5 separate regions of the Homo sapiens genome follow, and all the other regions are linked to region 3. The links come from fine-mapping of genetic effects on gene expression. A gene starts in region 3. Each other region holds a variant in brackets. All regions are shown on one strand. Distances are between the middles of the regions. Region 1 overlaps C14orf132 (chromosome 14 open reading frame 132). Region 2 has its middle 73 kb from the start of BDKRB2. Region 3 holds the start of C14orf132 (chromosome 14 open reading frame 132). Region 4 overlaps C14orf132 (chromosome 14 open reading frame 132). Region 5 has its middle 55 kb from the start of C14orf132.

Region 1 (4,119 bases), 24 kb before region 3:
GGACCTTGTCCTCCACGCGCATCCCATGGTCCATGGTGAGAATTCAGGGGACTGGGACAAGCCCCAGAGCCACAGCTTGCATTCAGAGGAGGCTGGCTAAGAACCTTAAGAAGAAACAGCCAAGGCCTGTTTGAGATGCCCCACCTCCCTGGCTGTACCTGAGGAGCTCCTCCACGTGGCTGTGGCTTCCTGAGGTGGGGATAAGGGGGAGGAGGCTGTGCCTCTGTTGGCTCAGCTATGGGAAGTTCAGGCCACTTTCACTGGATCTCAGCGGTCAAGCAAAGCAAGAGGATGGGGAGTTTAAAAATTTTCCCTTGGGGAAGAGCTGGCAAAGGTTGCCATAAATTAGTATTTATTCTACCCCAATTAACTCGATAGCATCTTTGAAGTGATTCAGCAGTGTCATTGGAACCAAATGGGCGTCCCCTGTGTGGGTCAGCAGCCTCCTAATCAGATTAAATTCCTTGCCACTGAGCAGAATAAAGTCTCAGGGCCTTAGGAGGATGGGTGGGGAATGTGTTTGTTCAATTGTTATCTCGTTCATTGGCTGAACAGACCTTTTACTGAGCACCTACTACATGCTGGGGGTGGAGGGGGTCAGGCTAGAAGCCAGAGGTACCAAGAAAAAAACTATGTAATCCCTATTTTGGAGGAAGAGAGAGAGAAGGGGAAAGTGGTGGGGGGTGATGAAGGCTAAGAGGAGAGGACAAAAGGAATAAAAGTGAAACTGAGCATCATTCTCCATCAGCGAGCACACGCATACTGGAGTGAAGCGGCGGCCGGGGCAACGGCAAGCCCAGGATGTTTACCTCCCTAAGTGGATCCTTTTGGTTTATTTTTAAACATCCTCTCCTCTATATGGCAAAATTGTCTTCAGTAGTAATCATGGCATGAAACAACAGCAACAAAAGGCCAGATTCTCCACTGGAGATGCACATCGGAATCTCCAGGAGGACGTTCTAAAATGCTATAGTCTCCTCCAACCAATGTAGCTCTCAGGGGAACACACTGCACCCTCCTCCCCAGGGGCACCTGTATGAGCAGAAGAGGAAGGCACAGAGGTGGCCATCCTGTGCCAACACAATCCGGCTCAGAACCCTGCAGCCTCACAGTTATTTCAGTACACCCAGCTGGGTCAGAAGCCAGAGAAAACTCCCCCGACCGCTACACATGATGTCCAGGAAGTCACGTCAAAACCCCCTACCTATGTATGGGAGGAAGACAGCACACTGGGTTAGGAAGAAAACAGGGCCAGAGAAGCTAAGGGAGGTGGCACCATGTGTGTGCACAATCCCTGCCAACCAGCAAAGCCTGTTCAACAGAGCTGGCCAGAGCGGAATCCCAGCATGGAAAATGCAAAATGCCAGGAGAGCAAATTAAGATGAGGACGTGACTTTTTTATTTTTTAATTTTTTTAATTTTATTTTTCCATGAGTTATTGGGGTACAGGTGGTTTGTGGTTGCATGAGTAAGTTCTTTAGTGGTGATTTGTGAGATTTTGGTGCACTCATCACCCGAGCAGTAGACACTGCACCGTATTTGTAGTCTTTTATGCCCCCTCTTCCACTCTTCCCCCAAGTTCTCAAAGTCCATTGTATCATTCTTGTGCCTTTGCATCCCCACAGCTTAGCTCCCACATACCAGTGAGAACATATGATGTTTGGGTTTCCATTCCTGAGTCACTTCACTTAGAATAAGAGTCTCCAATCTCATCCAGGTCACTGCAAATGCTATTAATTCATTCCTTTTTATGGCTGCCTAGTAGTCCATCATATATATATATACATACATATACACATATATATACACATATATATGTGTATATATGTGTATATATATACATATATGTATATGTGTGTGTGTGTGTGTGTGTGTGTGTGTGTATATATGCACCCTAGTTTCTTTATCCACTCGATGATTGATGGGCATTTGGGTCAGTTCCACGATTTTGCAGTTGTGGATTGTGCTGCTATAAACATGCCTGTGCAAATATCTTTTTCACATAATGACTTCTTTTCCTCTGGGTAGATACACAGTACTGGGATTGCTGGATCAAATGGTAGTTCTACTTTTATTTCTTTAAGGAATCTCCACACTGTTTTCCATAGTGGCTGTACTAGTTTACATTCCCACCAGCTGTGTAGAAGTGTTTCCTGCTCACCACATCCCTGCCAACATCTACTGTTTTTTGATTATGGCCATTCTTGCAGGAATAAGGTGGTATCGCATTGTGGTTT[C/T]GATTTGCATTTCCCTGATGATTAGTGATGTTGAGCATTTTTTCATATGTTTGTTGGCCATTTGCATATCTTCTTTTGAAAATTGTCTATTCATGTCCTTAGCTCACTTTTTGATGGGATTGTTTATTTTTTTTATTACTGATTTGTTTGATTTTGTTGTAGATTCTGGATATTAGTCCTTTGTCAGATGTATAGATAGTGAAGATTTTCTCCCACTCTGTGGGTTGTCTGTTTACTCTGCTGACTGTTCCTTTTGCCGTGCAAAAGCTCTTTAGAATAATTAGGTCCCAGCTATTTATCTTTGTTTTTATTGCATTTGCTTTTGGGTTCTTGGTCACCAAATCCTTGCCTAAGCCAATGTAGGGACGTAACTTTTGTTGTTCCTCAAAAGGATGCCACATGGCTGGGTGTGGTGGCTCACCCCTGCAATCCCAGCATTTTGGGAGGCTGAGGCAGGTGGATCACCTGAGGTCAGGAGTTTGAGACCAGCCTGGCCAACATGGTGAAACCCCGTCTCTACTAAAAATACAAAAATTAGCCCGACGTGGTGGCGTTTGCCTGTAGTCTCAACTACTGGGGAGGCTGAGGCAGGAGAATCACTTGAAACCAGGAGACAGACGTTACAGTGAGCCAAGATTGTACCACTACACTCCAGCCTGGGTGACAGAGCGAGACTCTGTCTCAAAAAACAAACAAACAAACAAAAGGATACCACAGTCCTGTTCCTTGGGTGGACAGTACTTTTCAAGAGGTCAGTTCTTATACGGAACCTCCATCCTATTCACCCTCTGTTCCTGAGGGGATGGCAGCTTGGACAAGAGCAAGGAGGCCTGAGACCCGCCCCAGCTGCAAGTCAACGGCTGCTTCACAGCTCCCTGGCCTCTGCTTACCCAGCTATCAAACAGATATGACGATCCCTGCCTCATCCACCTTCCAAACTCTTTAAAAGCATCAGATGAAAAAATTTTTTTCTGTGATAAAAGTACTGACATCCACTCTTTTTGTGACTCTGGGCAGAGAGGGTCTGTGGTGTGTCTTTGATCCTCAGTGTTTTGCACATAGCAGGCACTCAATAAATGCTCAGTGGCTTGTTTGGGCAAAATCAAGTCTATATTATGCTCCATAAGTAACCTGTTTGTTGGAAAGAAAATCATCTCAGAAACAAGACTGGATTCATCCTGAGAGTATGTAAGGGCACTCCGAAGGCCAAGGAAGAATGTACCTGGCAGCCCAGGAGTGAAGACAGCGCTTTAATCCTCTGTTGAGAAACCTGGGTTCCAGTTGCTGAAATGTTTGGCAAAGGGATCTGGACCACTCCCTAGCGGTTCTGACACGGATGCAGCTCAGAGTGGTGGAATTGCGAGGATGTGAACCTTAGCAGCCGTGAGCAGGGAGCTGGGCAGGAGGACTTTTTCCTAAGAGGCAGGAAATGCCTCCTTTCCAATTGAAACAGGCAGTGCTGGTGTTTCAAATTATTACCATAAAGACACATGTGGAGGGCTGCAATCTCCATGTCAGCTTTTGCAAAAGGCAGGGGAGAGAGAAAGTAGATTGACGAAAGGAAAACACGAAGATCCATTGGTCCTTTTTGTTTTCTTTCTTGATTAATGGGGAGCATTTGGAGCTGGTGATGCTCATCTCATGGTTGAGGGTGAAAGAGGACTAGGGGTTCAGGCCAGGGTGCAGTCAGGCTCTCTCTCTGGTAGCATAGCCACACATCCAGTCCTTCACTCCAAGCCCATTTTCTTTACCTGACCTGTGGTTCAACACCCTAGTGGGCAGACTGTGGAAGGTTCAGAGAAGACATATGCACATGGCAGGGACTCGATCCATGGAGCGACTTGCTGGAGAAAAGCCATGAGCAGACAAGAAAAGCTGCCTG
Region 2 (4,116 bases), 92 kb before region 3:
TTATTTCAGTTCTTTTGGGTATATATCTAGAAGTAAAATTGCTGGGCCATATGGTAATTCTATGTTTAACTTTCTGGGGAGTCACTCAACTGCTTTCCACACTGGCTGTACCATTTTACATTTCTACCATCAATATACAAGGGTTCCCGTTTCTTCACATCCTTGTCAGCACTTGCTATTTTTCATTTCTTTGATACCCATCCTAGTGGGTGTGAAGTAGTATTTCATTGAAGTGTTGATTTGCATTTCTCTAATGACTAACATGTTGAACATCTTTTCATATGCTTGTTGGCCTTTTGTATATCTTCTTTGGAGAAATGTCTATTTAAGTCCTTTGATCAGTTTTTAAGTGGGTTAGAATAGTTTTTAACCTCAGAGCTGAAAAGGGCTTTGGGGATCATCTATTGCCTGCCCAAATTTCTCCCATTTTACAAATGAGGAAACAGAAACCTAGGAAGGTGCACAGGTATCCTTAAGATCACACAGCAATGACTCAACAAGAAATCAGAGCTCTTGACTGAATTCCGGACACCCCACATAGCCTATTCTTCACAGATTTGACCCAAGGGCAGATCACAAGTCTAGACAGCTGGACTTTGGCTCTAAGGAAACCTCTAGAGCAGTAGATCCATGGTCCCATTGATCTGGCTTGCTGATCGCCCAGCTAATGGAGGTAGGGACTCCATTAGCAAGTTAATGACCACAGAGAGTGAAGCCAGCAGCACTCACACCTTAGTTAGCCTCACTCATCCTTCCAGTCTTTAACCCCTCCAGGTCTGTGTCCTTCCTGCTGCTTAGTTTCACCATATTTTCATTCATATGCAAATAGATGGACGGGTGGATGGATGGGTGGGTTGGTGGTGAGGGGGTAGATGGATGGGTGGGTGCATAGATGGATAGATGAATAGATGGATGGATCAATGGATGGATGAATTGATGGGTGGCTGAGGAGGTGGATGGATGGATAGATAGATGGACAGATAGATGGATGGATCGATCTATCTGTCTGCTCTTCTTTGTGCTCAGTTTTCTCGCTGAGAATGTCTGTTTCATAGTTGGCACTCACTGATGATGCAGGCTGAGTGGTTTTGTCGTTGTCCCTTTAGTTGACCTATTCTTCAGATTGCGGAATTTAAGACATTCACAAAGGCACAGTTCATGGAGGGAGCAGAGAATGGTTCATTCTTGCCGTTAATGTCTTCCTTCTCTGGATCTCAGCCTCTTCAATGCTTCCTCCCTCTCCTGTGTCTTCAGCCTGCCCCATTCTATCTCCTTATTAGTTCCCATCAGCAAAAAACATGCCTAGCTCTCTTATCTCTGCAAATGTCTCCCTTGAAATCATGCCCCACCCATTAGGGCTTTTTTTTTTTTTTTGTCACCCCACACCAGCCATTGACAGGCAACTTCTTGAACAAATTACCTGCTCTCTGTAACTCCTATTACCCATTCTTGCTCATTCTTTAACCAATCTTCTGGCTTTTGCCCCCAGCCCCCTCACTGAAGTTGGTCCTTGCCATGGTGACCTGCATCTCTCTAAATGTGGCCTGTGCTTTGGAGACTTTATCTTGTACACCTCTCCACAGCATTTATACTACTGACTGTTCCTCCTTAAAACCCACTCCCTGGCATCCTCTGACAGTCACCTCTCCTGGGTCCCCTCTGCCCTGA[T/C]CTGTTCTTCCTCAGACTCCTCTGCCAGCTCCTCCTCTTGTATCCAGCCCTCAAATGCTATAGGGTCTCATAGTTCTGTTCTAGGCACTCTCCATGCCAATACTTTCCATGCAGCAGATAATGACCATGAACCAGTTTATGATCCCCTGATTTCTATAGAAAACCAAGATCTCTCTAAACACTCAGACTACAAAGTCAACCTCTCATGGGCACACATTTCCCTTGAATGCCTCACTGGTACCTCAAACTAGTCATATGCAGGGCTGAATCCTTAGTCTTTCTCTCCGAATTTGCTTCTCTTCTCAGCTTCCCTTCTACAACATGCTTAAGTGTATCATTTGGGAATCTAAGTCTCAATTCTGGCCATGACATTTTATCAGCTCTTGTTCTAAGGGTTGCCCAATTTGCATATCAGGAAATCCCACAGCCAAATGGATGGGGGTAGCTGAGTCAATGTGCACACGCACAGTATATAAGATCAACCCTGAGGGTTTGCAAGTTTGCATGTAACCGATCATAAGGGCATGAGCAGCAATGTCACTAGGGGACCAATCCCAGAAGGAAATGTCCCACTTGGAGCAGAACTCTGAGCTTTCATAGCCCAGGCACCCTTGTTGCCACCACGGAGCTGCATGCTGTGTCTCCTGTCCCAGTGCGAGAGGGTGAGCCTCTGGCTGGAAGCTCCTTGCTCTGAGAGAGCCCTTATAGCAAATGCAGTCCGCAGTGAGAAGCGACAGCATCCATAGCTATTGGGCCACCAATAGGCTCTTGAGATACTCACCTGAGGGTGAGGTACTGTGGCTGTCTACCCCATCCTAAAAAAGTGTTTGTGTGGGGGCAGGGGGGTGCATCACTAGGAAGCTTTTGTTTAGAAAGACTGAAAAATTCTAGATAAGATATTGTTTTATATTGGATAATTCTACAATAAACATGAGTAATTTGAGAAAGCTATCTTTCAGTTTCCACTTATTACACTGAAGCCAGTGGGGCAGCCTGAGCAACATACTGAGACCAGTCTCTACAAAAAATAAAAAATTTAGCCGGGCATGGAGTATGCGCTGGGCTTGGCGGCATGTGCCTGTAGTCCAGCTACTTTGGAGGCTGAGGCGGGAGGATCCTTGAGCCCAGGAGTTTGAGGCTGCAGTGAGCTATGATTGTGCCACTATACTGCAGCCTGGGTGACAGAGCAAGACCCTATCTCAAAAAATAAAAGGAGCCAGCAGAGTGATTGCACTGCCACTCACTGAAGGTCTGAGATCCCCTTTTCCTCCCTCCCCTCCCCCTACTTTGACACCCTCTCAGGTCAAGAGTCCCACTATCTTCCCAGTTGCTCAAGCCTGAATGCCAGGATCCCTTCTGGCCCTCCCAGTTTACACCCCTCAGCCAATCCATCGCCAAGTCTGCCAACTCTACCTCTACAGTGTCTTGAGAATTAGTCACTGGAATGAGACTGCCAGAGTGTGAAACCTGGCCCTGCCTCTTCACTACTACTTGTTAGCAAATGATGTTGTTTCTCAACCTTTCTGTGCCTGAGTTTCCTCATCTGTAAAATGAGAACTGTGCACAGAAACCGTTGTACTGATGTAATTAATAATACTCCCTTTCTCTCTTGAAAGTGTCCTAGTTTGGATAAATTATATGGTCAACCTAACTGATATGAATATTATGAAACCTAATCAAGGTTCCCTCTTCAGGCAATACGCCCATCCCCCTGCTGGGAATATCACTTTTATCTCACTCATTAATGCAAATAAAAGTCTCGATCATCATTCATGTCAGAGCTGCCTTCCTTTGTCCATTGTAAGCGCACAGGGACTGTGGCCCGACCTCCCCCTGGTGCCCCCAGCCCTGCCCTGAGTCCTTCACTGGGAACCATCCTGTGTCTCACCCGCTGTTATACTGTCTCCCAGGGGCAGCCCATGGCTGATGACTGGCTGATTAGGGATATGAAGATCCAGCCCATTTACCGTAATTTGGGGCAACTCTGAAGGGCCTCCCCAGCTCCAGAGTTTCACATGGGATTGTCTGAGGTCTCAGTTGTACCACAGTGTGGGTCCCTTCTCTCTTCCCAATTCTATCTTCCTCTCTTCCTACTGGTGAATCCTTCGAGAGCAATACCCAGTAACCATTCTGAATCTGGTTCCCCATATTACAGTTCCTTTCCAGAGAACTGAATCTTAGACACTAATAACAATCTTGGTCAACATTTCTTTCCAGCGTGGCTGTGAGCAACTTGAGGTCAGGGCCCATGTTTTCTTTGCCTTCCCGGTCTTGGCAAATGGCACATAGATCGTGCTCATCTTAGGTTGGTTGAAGTGCCTGAAATGCAACTGGAAGGGCGAGGTGGTTACTACCCTGGGAACAAAAGAGGTAGATAAGTTAGAGACCTGGGTTAGGCACTTACCTCAACCTTCCTCTCCACCAGGAAGGCGGTCTAAGTCAGGTTGC
Region 3 (4,108 bases):
CTTGAAGCTTTTATAAACATGCAGAAAGAAAATCTACGTCCTATTCAAGTTTGTCCCACAGGATCCCTGTCCCAGTGCCTGATACGGAGCTTGTCACAAGGCAGGTACTAGACATTTGCTGAGCAAGTGGATGGATGCACCAACATTTCGCTGCAAACTGCCCCCTGCTGAGGGAAAGACTGCACAGAGAGACAGTGACTGTCACACACACCTGGTGGCCACAGGACACACCAGGAGCAGGGTCTGAGCACTTGCTCCAGCCAAGCACTGCGAAGTATTGCAGGTAGGGAAGTAACAGTTCCCATCCTTATGGGGATAATGGGATGAATCAACAGCAGAAAGCAATCTACTAGAAAGGCACAATAGTAAGCCCACTTCCCAGAGGGAAGAGAAGAGAGAAATCATTCTGAAATAGATCTGTCCTGTACCTTACATCGTATCTTTCTCAGGATGAAGCAATAAGGTGGAAAACCCTTTGCAGATACTCAGGCCCAGATGTGAAATCCAGTTCTCCTCCTTGCAAATGGCATGCTCTTGGGCAAATTATTTAATCTCGTTTAGTGTCCTGACCTGTAAAATGGGGCCTCCGTCATGGACTTGTAAGGATTTGCTGTGATAAAATATGCCAAGCACCCAGCGTCTGGCACATAGTAGGTGCTCAACAAACCTTAGCGTCTGTTCTCATATGTGTGGTACTTCATGTTTCTGTTCCTTGCAGCTAGCACAGTACTGCGCATGTAACCAGTGTCAAAAATGTGTCAAGGAGAATACATTGACCGAGTGGAATGTGAATTGTAAACAAAAAAGGAAAAATAGGAACCTGGTCTCTGGGCAGATTCTGCCTGAAGACGTTAAAAAGCCCTGTATTTATTTCGTCAAGTTGCCATGGCAGCAACTGATGCTCCAGCCAGCTCCAGGGTTAGCAGGGATCAGTTTATCTTGTTAACCATGGAAATTCCGGAGGTTCAGTGGGATCCAGAGGGGAAGGCAGACACAGTTCTTCTCCAGTCTAGAAATAAATCCTGGAAAGCCTCCTTAGTTTTCATGTAGCTAAAACCATCATTATCTAAAATGATGTTTACATGACAATTTTTATAAGTATGGATTTAGGCACAGGAGATGTAAAATCAGGCAAAAAAAAAAGGGCCAGCGATACTCAGAAGGGCAATTAGCATCATGGAAAACTTAAGGGGCTGCCGGAGAGCCAGGATCTAGACCCCCAGAACTAACTTGGGGCTTCCGCATCTTTTAAGCCTCCATTTGCAGACTCGCTGTCCACACACAGTCTGGATTTTGCTGTCACTTTTTAAACAGGCTTCCACTACAGGTGAAGCTTGGGGAAAAAGCAAGTGTCCCCTCAAACTTCGTTCCCTGTAAAAGAAAACAGCAGCAGATGGGGTCCCTGCCACACACCCTGGAGACAGAAGGGAGCCTGGGTGGCCTCCCGACCTCTCTGCTCCCACCATAACCAACCAACACAACCAGAGAAGGTGCAAGATGTGGCTTTGGTAGATTGGGACTTACTCTCCCAGGCCAAACGCAGCCCTTCCCTGGAGCCAGCTCTGGGTCTTCTCTAGGGTCACAGACTGATGGAGAAATCCGGGATTTGTCTTTGTTCTGGCTCAAGAGAGTTAAGGCACAGAAATAGAATCATCACCCAAGCTCAGAACTCCAGGGCATTCTGCCGGAGGAAAATTCAAGCTGTGAGAGATTTGTTTTTCCGGCCACTGGGAGCCTGTTTGTGTCGGGGAGGGGGGTGGGGGGGTTCTGGCCGCGCTGGGCACTGGTGGCTCCATCAGACTCTACACAAAGCAAAACAGGACAAACGACCGCGGCGCGTCGACGCTTGGCGGGTCACGGTCACAAAGCGGGTCTCAGAGCCTTCCTCAGGCGGCGGCAAAGGGGGCGCCCGAGGTCACCGGCAAGAGACAGATTACTGGCGCCTCGGGAAAACAGAGTGGGGAAGGGCGAGACTGTGTGCCCATCCACGTTCGCGCGGGTCTGAGCTGGCCCGGCCTTGGAGGGCTCCGGGACCCCAGAAGGGGGACAGCAGTGGGGGATGGGCAGAAGGGGGCGACTCGGGCTGCCCAGGCTCCTCGCAGCCTTCCTGCCAACGAGAGGGGCCCGGGCGGGAACAGCTCGAGCCGCGGGGGTGCGGGGCGCGCAGCCCGCCCCACCCCGGGAGAGCCGCGATCGCCGCCCCCGACGCGTGCACCAAGTGGGGGTGTCCGGCTCGGGACAAAGGACCGGGACGCGGATCGCGGGCGGGCGCCACTGCCCAGCCCCAGCGTGGAGGGCGAGACCGTGGCCCCGAACCTCCCCAAACTTGGCGGCCCGGGGCGCGTGGGGGGGACGCCCCGTTACCTGCGCGGCCATAAAGGAGAGATCCATGGTGTCGCTGCAGCCAGCGCTCGAGTCCTCGCTGCTGCCGCTGCCGCTGCGGGTCAGCCGCCTGCACAGTTGGCGGGGATCGGGCTGAGCAGCGAGCGTCCGGAGACCGCACGGCGCACTCGGCTGTCTCTGGGCTTCTGGCTCCAGATCTCTACTAGGCGGAGGGCCCCGAGCGCGGGGGCGGGCGGGGCGGGGTGGGGCGGGGCTCGGCGGACGGGGCGCCCCTCCACGTGACCACTCCCCGCCCCACCCCCGGGGCGGGGTCCGTCAGAAACCCCAAGCGCTCGCAATCGCCTCCCTTCGTGGGCGGGATGGGGAAACTGAGGCCCGAGGCCGCCCCGCTGGTTGGTGCAAGAACCAGCCTGCAACCCAAGTCCTGAGCTGTTGGCGCCCCGCCCCGTGCAGTTGAACCCAACCCACCCGGGGCTGTGGGCAGCGCTCTCTTGGGGCTGACACGTTATCCCGAGCCTGAGGACCAAGATCGGAGTGACCTGGCTTTCCACGCCAACGCTCCTCCCAGAGTCCGGTGTACTCCCGGCTCGGCATCTGGGCAGAACGAGGTTTAATCCTAGCCCTGCTTTGTTGTGCAGCTTGAGCAAGATAGTGTCTTTGAGCCTAGATTTCCTCATCTGTGAAAAGAGAATACAGAACCGAATAATTAAATGAGATAGGGAATATAGCACGCGGTGTCCTCAATAAATGAGAGCCCTAACATGGCTAATCATCCAATAGAGACGAGGCTGTGAGTGGTGTCTTCGAGGACCGCACGGTGCTCAGGTTGCACAGCGGGTACTCCATGGCTCTCAGCTCAAACCAGTATCGAAAATCATGCAGGTGCCACAGTTCAAGTAAGGGGAACAGAAGAGACGCCCACAGGGGCCCATTGCTCTGTATGTGTGTGTGTGTGTGTGTGTGTGTGTGGTGGACACCACAGACTTGGTGACACGTGGAGGCTTTGCCCTCCGGGGGCTCACTGGGAGGGAACCAGCTGTACTCTAAGGAGTCTCAGTGAGTACGACTGGTCCCTTTGGGTGATGTCTCTTCCAGGTACTTTACACTCATGGTCATCACGAGCCTCTGTGAGGGGCAGCCTGGGACTCCCAGACTTTGTCACAGGCAAGGAAGCTGTGGCACAGGGAGATGGAGGGGTTTGTTCAAGGTCCCCCGGCAGCTGGGGGCCCAGTAGGGACTGTGGCTATGGGAATGGGACCAGAACCTCACTGACCTACAGAAGGCTTTCAGTGTTATCTTTCCTGTAACTTTCCTTTCTTTTCTTTTCCTTCCCTTCCTTTCTCCCTCCTTTTCTTCCTCCTCTTCCTTCTCTCCTTCTCTCCCCTTCCCCCCACTTTTTTCTTTCTTTTCTCTTTTCACTTTTCCTGTCATGCTTGCCTCCTCCCTTCCTCCTCTGGTCTCTAAACCCTCCAGTTCCCTGGCCCTCCCTTCCCTCCCTGTTTTTAGCCAGTACTGCACTCACCACACCCATCATTCCTGCCACCTCCCAGCCTAGTCCACACGGGGCCTGCCCAAACAGTCCATGCCAAGAGCCGCCCACCTCCTCCCACCCTTCCTGTGGCCAATAGCAAAGCAGCCTGCCCAGAACTGCCCAGGGCTCCCCGTCTGCTGTAAGAAATATTATGTACACGGCATACTTCACAATAAAAGGGCGTATAGGTTGTGTGTGTGCAATTTGAAAAATAATATAGCCTTGCATAGGTTA
Region 4 (4,119 bases), 53 kb before region 3:
GCAAGGAGGGTGGGGCAGGAAGTGAGGGACACGCTGTGGCCTGGGCTGGACTGGCTGTAGCTTCTTGAGACACATTCAGCAGCATTGGACCAGGGATGCCTCCTTTTCTTGAAAAACCTTGCTGCTAGCCATTTTTGCTATTTCAGAATGATGCTTATCAGTCTTGAGAACGCAGTCCTTTGGGCCATGTGAAAGCCTCTGCCATCTTTGCAAGGCACACGATTGGGAGGGAGACCCCACCTTATCAGCCACACTGGTGCAGGGCGGAGGTGCCATCCAGCGAGCGAGGGAAGATGCCAGAGGAGCAGGTTCGAGGGGCAAAATCAAGAGCCCCTTCCCAGTTCTCTTGCTGCCTCCCTGCTCCAGAAACTGCAGGCCTCTCTACTTGAGAACCAGCCCTGCTTCCCTATGGCCAACAGTGGCCCATGGCCCACCATGGTGCCCACCCTGACATTCAAGGCCCCTTTCAGCTGGCTGTATCCCTTCATCCTCAGCAGCCTCAGATCCACTGCTGCCTTGACCTTTATCCAGCCTGGTCTTCTAGCCCGAACCCCATGCAACCTCTGCTGTGCACCTGTTTCTGCAGATTCCATGCCAAGTTAAGTATTGCCTCCTCCAGGCAGTCCTCAGTGAGCTCTTTAGTTGCTGCCTACAAAGTCCATGCAGCTCTTGACATTATGGAACACCTTCTTGTTCTAACCCCTCCCTTGGCTCTCTTATCTGTTGGACTGTTGGCAGGCTAGGAATGGCCAGGCTCTGGTCTCTCCTCATCCAGCAGGCTAGCCTTGCTTGCATCCTCAGGGTTCCAAAGACAGAACAAAAAAAAGGCTTCTTGAGGCCTAAGCCCAGGACTGACCCAGAATCAGGTTTTCAGTCCTGGTTCACCAGTTACATGGCCTTGGGCAAGAAACCTCTGCATGCCTCAGACTCCTCATTTGTAAAACGAAGATTAAGTGAGTTAACATGTGTGGAAAGAGCTCAGAGCTGCGCCAAACACCTCATAAGTGCTATACGAATGTTTGTTACTATCAGTGAACTAATAAGGAAAATGATATGGTCCATGTTCCTCATAGTGTTGAAATGTACCGGGCTGGTCATTTAGGTATCATTCACTCATTCACAGAATATCGGATGTTTGCTAGGAGCCAGGCACTGTGCTGGGTGGTGGGGATAACACATTGAATAAGATAAGTTTGCTCTTAGATGGCTCAGATAGTTGGGAAAACTGAATGTAGCTTCCGTGATTTGATTTGCTACAGGTGTGATGATAGAGTGGTATCAGGAGGGGATAGGGAGGAGGGGACCTGTCCTGCCTCGGTGGGGCAGGAAAAGCATCAGAATGGAGGTGACGCTGGGGCTGAGCCATTTAAAGCTGAGTAGATCATCTCCTTTGCATAAAGCACAGATGAGAACCAGACACAGAGGAGTTCATGTTTTCTTCTTTTCTCTTTTCAGTTATCATAATAGAAAATGACAACAGCAGCAACGCTAACAAAGTGAGATTTCACAGATACATTTTTACGTCTTTTAAGGTTAGATATTTTTAATCAAAAGAGCACAGCGAAATCCTTTATTAAGAAAGAGTCTTCACTGTAGAGAAGTCAGTGATCGCATGGTGAAACCAGGTGCTTGGGTAGCAAAGGACTCCAAGAATAGTTAAAATACCTTTTATGAAGTCAACTGCTTACATTTACAAGTTGATCATGAAAACATCAGTAAGACACAAAAACATTTCCGATGCTCTCGGCATGAAGAATTGGTATCTGGAGAGTAGCAAGTTATAATAGTAAGGTTTCTGCAAAAGATTAAATAGTATAAAGAATATTAGTATGCCTTCAACTGGCAGAAATAGGACTGGGCAC[G/A]TGGAAAAAGGTCAGAAATAAGAGAAGATGCAGATTTGCTCAAAGGCTGCTACCCAGCACTCCCATGCCCACCCCATTCCTAAGCTCTTCCCCAAGCATACTCTTCATATGCATTGGTGAGGGGCCAGGTCCCTGGAGGTCCCAGAGACACAAAGTTAAGGGTAGGGAAAAGTTCAGCCCCACACTCCCATCCACTTTGTAGGGCTTTCTCCCTCCAGTCTGGGGGTCCCCACAAATGCCCAAGATGGTGGAAACAGTCACATGGATTTCTAAGAGACCACATGACATGCTGGGAGTTGCAGATCACTGTCCTCAGCTCGCATTATTTGAACGCAGGGCAGTGACCATGATCACTGCTGCTGCTCAGAAGAGCTTTAATTTACTCAATGACTCACAAATGGGGAAAAGTGGAAAGCATGCATAGTTTCAGAATCAGAGATAGGATGGCCAGCACAGGGTCCCCTGACCTCGGCACTATTGGCATTTTGGGGCTGGATAATTCTTATTTGTGGGGGGCTGCCCTGTGCATTGTAGGATGTTCGGTGGCATCCCTGGCCTCCACCCATGAGATACCAATAGCAGTCCCCACCAAGCTGTGAGAATCAAAAATGTCTCCAGACATTGCTGATGGCCCCCAGCCCTTCCTTGAGAACGACTGGCCTCATGAAAGCCACCACTAAGTCTCCTAGTGAAAACTCGATAGTTAGGTGTCCTGGGCTCAAGACCCCTGTCTCCTGAAAAGCTCCACCTGGCAACACTCTCAAGCCTCTCAGAGATTCATTTTCCTCAAGTTAAAAGGTTGGAAGCTCCCTTCTGCCAGCATATAGAGCCCTTGTCAGAACCATCTGCATTGTTGGGACAACGCTTCGAACGGCAAACGCAGTAATGGTGTGGTTCTTTAAGAAACTGGGAGAAAGACAGCCAGTGAGACAGATACAGGGGACACAGGGGTGTTGCTCAGCCACGTGGATGGGGCTCGGTGTGGAATGGGCTCTGATTCCCCCAATAATCGAGGCCTGCAAATTCCCTGCAAATATGCTGTGCACATCTGTCAGGATTTATTTCCAAGGCAGAATGGGGCTCAAACCTCCTCTTGGGGAGGCAGGAAATCAGCTTGAAAAAGGACCCAAGAGCAGATGACAGCCTTGCCAAATGTCTGGATGGAGCCATCCGGGCAGGCGCGAGGCTGCCGCCACGGTCAAAAGACCAGCATCCAGAATCCCCCGGGGACCGCACCACCTACGCAGCCTCTCCGAGGACCAATGTCCACGTCATTCTCTGCTCTTTTCTATCTTGATAATAAATGCATGACTTCTACAGTGACTCAGAACACATCATACACTTTTATTTCAGAATTTATGGCGTCCATTTTGTGTACTTTTTGGCTCTTCCATTCTGCTTCTGGCAGTAACTGTTTTCTCGCTCCAGGGAGTCTTTGATCGTCTTCAGTCATGAAGATTTGCATTGTTTTGTCCTTTGTCACTTTCCCTCTTCCTCAAAAAGAAACCCAGTAAATGCTCAAGGTCTGAGCTCAGAAGGACGCGCTGGGAATGAGAAGGTGCTGTGATAATTCTGGTTATCCAGATTTTTCAGAGAGGTCCCTTTTCCTGCTTGGAAGCTGTGGGCTCTGTCCTCTGGGTTCTCAGTACTCAGTTCAACCACCTTCTCCTCCATCCCTCTCCGTGAGTGACCATGGTCAGGGGCCTGTGGAGTGGGCCAGGGTGGGTGGGGCTGGGGCAGGTGAACATAGAACATTCAGGATCTGGCTGTTCCCTTTGGCTCCCTGAGCAGAACTCCCTGGGCCTCCCTGTCATAGCAGCTCAGCCCAACCCTGGCACTTGCTCGGGGACAATCACTGGGCATCTGCCAGGACGAAGCAAAGCGGGCCGATGGCAGCTGCAGGGAGCACAACCCACCTCGGGGCTGGGGCAGGTAATCCCGGGCAAGCCCTTTGCTTCCCACTGAACGCACAACGTGCTGGACCACGGACCCCTGGGCCAGGAGCCCAGACACTTGTCAGCTCTCCACTAATTTTCCACACGGCCTCAGCTGCTCTCCCCGAAAAATTAAAGGTCTCGATTAGATGCTCTCTAAAGCCTCTTATCACTGTGAGGTTCTGGAACTGATAAATCCCTGTGCACTGCCGCCTGCCCCTTTCCTGGACTTACACTTGAATGTGGCAATCTGGCTATAAGCTCTTCAGGACCAAATCTCAACCCCAGCCTCCGAGGCCTCATATCCCGAGATGGTCCATCCC
Region 5 (4,119 bases), 56 kb after region 3:
ATAACATGTAAGAGCAAGGGAAAGCAGCAAGTGCTGATGTAGAAGTTGCAGCAAGTTATCCAGAAGACCACTGATGAAGGTGGCTTCAGTGTAGATGAAACAGCCTTCTACTAGAAGAAAAGGCCATCTAGGACTTCCATAGCTGAAGAGGAGAAATTAATGAAATTGATTACTGAATAAATTACTGAGTATCTTAAGTCCCCTGTTGAGACTTACTGCTCATAAGAAAAGATTCCTTTCAAAATATTACTGCTCATTGACAACGAGCCTAGTCACCCAAGAGCTCTGATGGAGCTGTACAAGGAGACGAATATTGTTTCGATGCTTGCTAGCACAACATCCATTCTGCAGCCCAAGGATCAAGAGGTAATTTTGACTTTCAAGTCTTATTATTTAAGAAATACATTTTATAAGGCTATAGCTGCCATAGATAGTGAATCCTCTGATGGATCTGGACAAAGTAAATTGAATACTTTCTGGAAAACACTCACCATTCTAAATGTCATTAAGAACATTCCTTATCCATAGGAGGAAGTCAAAATATCAATATGAACAGGAATTTGAAAGACATTGATTTCAACCCTCATGAATGACTTCCAGGGGTTCAAGACTTTGCAGAGGAAGTAACTACTGATGTAGTGGAAACAGCAAGAGAACTAGAATTAGAAGGGAAACTTGAAGATATCAGTGAATTGCTAAAATCTCTTGAGATGAAGTCAACTCCCAGTGAAGATGCTTTGAATATTATTGAAATGACAGCAAAGGATTTAGAATATTACATACAATGAGTTGATAAAGCAGTGATAGGGTTTGAGAGGACTGACTTCAATTTTGAAAGAAGTTCTACTGTGGGTAAAATGCTATCTAAGAGCATACAATACTACAGAGAATATTTTGTGAAGAAAAGAGTTAATCGATATGGGAAACTTCATGTTTGTCTATTTTAATAAATTGTCACAGCCACACCAACCATCAGCAACCGTCACCCTGATCAGTCAGCAGCTTTCAGCATCAAGGCAAGACCCTACACCAATGAAAAGATTACAATTCATTGAAGGCTTAGATGATTTGTTAGCAGTTTTCAGCAATAAAGTATTTTAAAATTATGGTATGTACATTTTTAGACATAATGCTATTGCACACCTAATAGCTTACAGCATGTGTAAACATAACTTTATATGCACTGGGAAACCAAAATATTCATGTATCTCACTTGATTTTGGTTTTCACTTTATCGCGGTGGTCTGAAATCAAACCCACAGTATCTTTGAGGTATGCTATACACTCGTGATTTATTTGCTCCCAGCCAAATCCATGCATCAGTAACTGCACCCAAAAAACTATTTTAAAACTGGTTCTCAATCTGCATTATTTCTTCACTCCCTTGCCCTGTGCCCCACCCAACTCAATGGACGCGCCACTGAAGTCATCTGGAGTAGTAGGTAGGAAAATCCTGCCCTTACTCTGATCTTTGCCATGAATTGATCTTTACAGGGAAATTTGGTTGAGCTTTTATACCTTAAAGACTTTTTTGCTCCATGTCTTCCTGTTTGGGATCCAGAAGCACTTGGCTTTTCATGGTCTAATCTTCACATTTCTGGATTCTCTCTATTCCTCCCTCTCTGCTCCCCTCCTCCCAACTTTTTTTTCACTGTAAGCTCATCTCTTCTTATAATACCTTATGAATGCAGCCAATAGCAACCAACACATAGCACTGAAGACATGTTTTCCAAGTCCAACCCTAGAGTTGTCAATTTAGTAAGCACATGGTCTGCTTCCGAAATAACCATAGGCAGGTTTCACCA[C/T]ACATGGTAGTGTTTTAGGACAACATGAATTGACATATTTGCTTCCTAAGTTATAATTTTCCTCAATGCCTGTCACCCCACAATGAAGCAAGTATCACGTATTTTAGGTTTGTTGCCATAACAGAGCTTTACTTCCAGCCTCAATTTCTGTTTTCATCAAGATAATCAGTGCAGTTGCCATAGCAAATACATACTCTGAAATTGTATGGCTTATGTGATCATTGTAAGAGCTTGGGCAGCAAAGATCAGTGTCTAGGGGTTCCCTGGAAACAGCTCTGAGAAGGACAGTTGTATATAGAAGGTTTACTGAAAAGTGTCTTGGGGATGCAGCTGTAAGGAAAGGAGGAAGGAGGACTGGGTGGAAGGAGATGCTGACTCGCAGTGTGGTTGCTGCAAAGCCTCAGCCAGTCTTACGGGGAGCTCTGGAGCTGGGATGGTCTTCAGTGTTGTCTCAAACCAGAAAAAGAGAGCTGGGCCTTTGTATCTAGGCACTGGCCAGCCACTGGCTACTGGCCGTTCTTTTGGAAAGGATGTAAGCTTGGGCAAGGCCAAACCCCACGGGGAGGGCAATGTCCAGTGAGGGATACAACTGTGACCCATCAGCCCCCTGAAGAGAGGATATGAGAGGAACACCACATCATCCATCCGAGGTAGTATAAAGGCTTGGGTTTTACAGCAAAGGCACCGTCGGTGATCCCAGCTGCCCACATCCCTGGAGCAGGAAGACTGCAGTGGACACCAAGAAGCAAAGGGCATTTGGTACTGACGATCCCAGCTGCCTATCCTCAGATTCCTTTGAATAGGAACAGCTTCTTCTCTTTTTCCTGCCATGTGTCAAGCAAGGGCTTCTCATTTGTAGAAATGAAGCAGAAACCTCATTTAAAGATGCCTCTGGGAAATTTGGTTGTGATGCAGCAAAGAAGGGGATGGGAATGCAGGGATGTTGTCGAGTTGAATGCAGACCGGCTGACAGTATAGAGGTGCTCCATAAAAGGTCAAAGAAATGAACGACCCCCAAACTGGGAAAACCCTTATGCCCAACGATATTAATCCCAGAATCATTTACCAAAGGGGATATCTGAACAAACCCCAAACATCCAATAATAAGGACTATTTAAGCTAGCGTGGGCATGAAATCTTGAAGCCAGGCTGCAAGCTCCTTGGAAACCGAGACGGACCTAGCACAGAGCCCAGCTCCAACACTGAGTGGGTGATGGATAATCCAATCAGCACACTTACTGGGGCATAAAAATGAGAACATTCTGCAACTGCATACAATGTGGAGGCCATGATGTTAAGACTAAAAGCTGGATTCAAAATTGTAGGCTCGCTGTAAAATAAGTAAAGTGTACATGCCGGTGAAATAAGGCAGGAATAGAAATGAGAAGGGAAAGAAAGCAGCTATAAAGGGCTCTAGGCAGTATCTTTGGAAGCTGAGAGGCTGGGGAAAGCCGAAGAAGGAGAAGGAGCTAGGGGCAGGGTCCGGGGAAAAGAGACGTAAGCCCAGACACAAGCCATCAGCAGGCGAGTGTGGGAACAGGGCAGCCATTTCGGCTCCAGCCGGTCAAGCCAGCTTATCTCAGGGAAGAGAGTTCTCCAAGTATGGGTGGGTGCACTTACCTTCTTCAGTTAGAAGTAGAATCTGACTATCCCTTGGTTCTTGGGCTGGATATTGTCTAAATCTCTGGGATGAATCCAGCTCAGGTGAGTTAAGCTACTTGTAATGAACAGAGGGTACTGGGATGAGAAGTCAGATTTGATCACATCCTCTTTATATACTTTTCACTGCACACCTTTGTTCCGTCCAAACTGGGTGTTGTTTGAACAGCATCTAGGGTATGTGCACACTTCGTCATGTCGTCACTGCCATTGCCACCATTGTCATCATCAATCACATGTATTGATTCGTCCACTGACAAACATCCATGCACAAGGCACTCTTCTAGACGCTGGGGTAAAGTAATTAACAAAACAGTCAAAGCACCTGCCTTCACGGATTCACGGTGGGAGGAGCCAGGGAAAATAAACAAGTTGCACGTAGCAATTGAATAAAACTAAGCAGGGAAGAGGTATAGAGGTGCAGGGTGCGGGTGATGAGGAGGGACCAACCAAGGGGAGGGGAGGGGAGCAGCCAGGGAAGCAGGAGGAATGATGGGGTCATGTATTGGACTCGGGACATCAAAGCAAGGGAGTGTTTCCAGGAGTGAGGGAACCGCCAGGGCAGCACTGCTGCTGATGGCTCAGCTGACCTTGACCACAGCAACTTTGGGGGAGGGGCAGAGGTGTCAGCCTGATTGAAGGGGGTTTTAGAGAG

Evidence for each region. PIP is the estimated chance that this variant, and not a neighbour inherited with it, causes the effect.
Region 1: its variant is the best candidate, but not a certain one, in a credible set for the expression of C14orf132 in whole blood (INTERVAL, PIP 0.83).
Region 2: its variant is the best candidate, but not a certain one, in a credible set for the expression of C14orf132 in whole blood (INTERVAL, PIP 0.67).
Region 4: its variant is the best candidate, but not a certain one, in a credible set for the expression of C14orf132 in tibial artery (GTEx, PIP 0.87).
Region 5: its variant is the best candidate, but not a certain one, in a credible set for the expression of C14orf132 in whole blood (TOPMed, PIP 0.64).

The regions. Positions count from the first base shown.
Region 1 is chr14:96,062,128-96,066,246 of GRCh38, reverse strand. The region is part of intron 1 of C14orf132 (chromosome 14 open reading frame 132); the gene reads right to left. Among named protein-coding and RNA genes, the nearest start is that of C14orf132, 25 kb to the right of the region's middle. RefSeq lists a silencer at 3,362-3,539. The variant C/T (reference allele first, on the strand shown) is at 2,238.
Region 2 is chr14:96,130,038-96,134,153 of GRCh38, reverse strand. No RefSeq gene overlaps it. Among named protein-coding and RNA genes, the nearest start is that of BDKRB2, 73 kb to the left of the region's middle. The variant T/C (reference allele first, on the strand shown) is at 1,669.
Region 3 is chr14:96,037,784-96,041,891 of GRCh38, reverse strand. It overlaps C14orf132 (chromosome 14 open reading frame 132), which reads right to left and starts at 2,530. Exons shown (of 2, transcript NM_001252507.3): 1 at 2,365-2,530. The coding sequence starts at 2,391. RefSeq lists silencers at 2,421-2,470, 2,491-2,680.
Region 4 is chr14:96,091,198-96,095,316 of GRCh38, reverse strand. C14orf132 (chromosome 14 open reading frame 132) reads right to left here. Exons shown (of 2, transcript NM_001252507.3): 2 at 1,346-4,119. Among named protein-coding and RNA genes, the nearest start is that of C14orf132, 54 kb to the right of the region's middle. RefSeq lists enhancers at 1-307, 308-808, 2,975-3,144. The variant G/A (reference allele first, on the strand shown) is at 1,863.
Region 5 is chr14:95,982,077-95,986,195 of GRCh38, reverse strand. No RefSeq gene overlaps it. Among named protein-coding and RNA genes, the nearest start is that of C14orf132, 55 kb to the left of the region's middle. The variant C/T (reference allele first, on the strand shown) is at 1,806.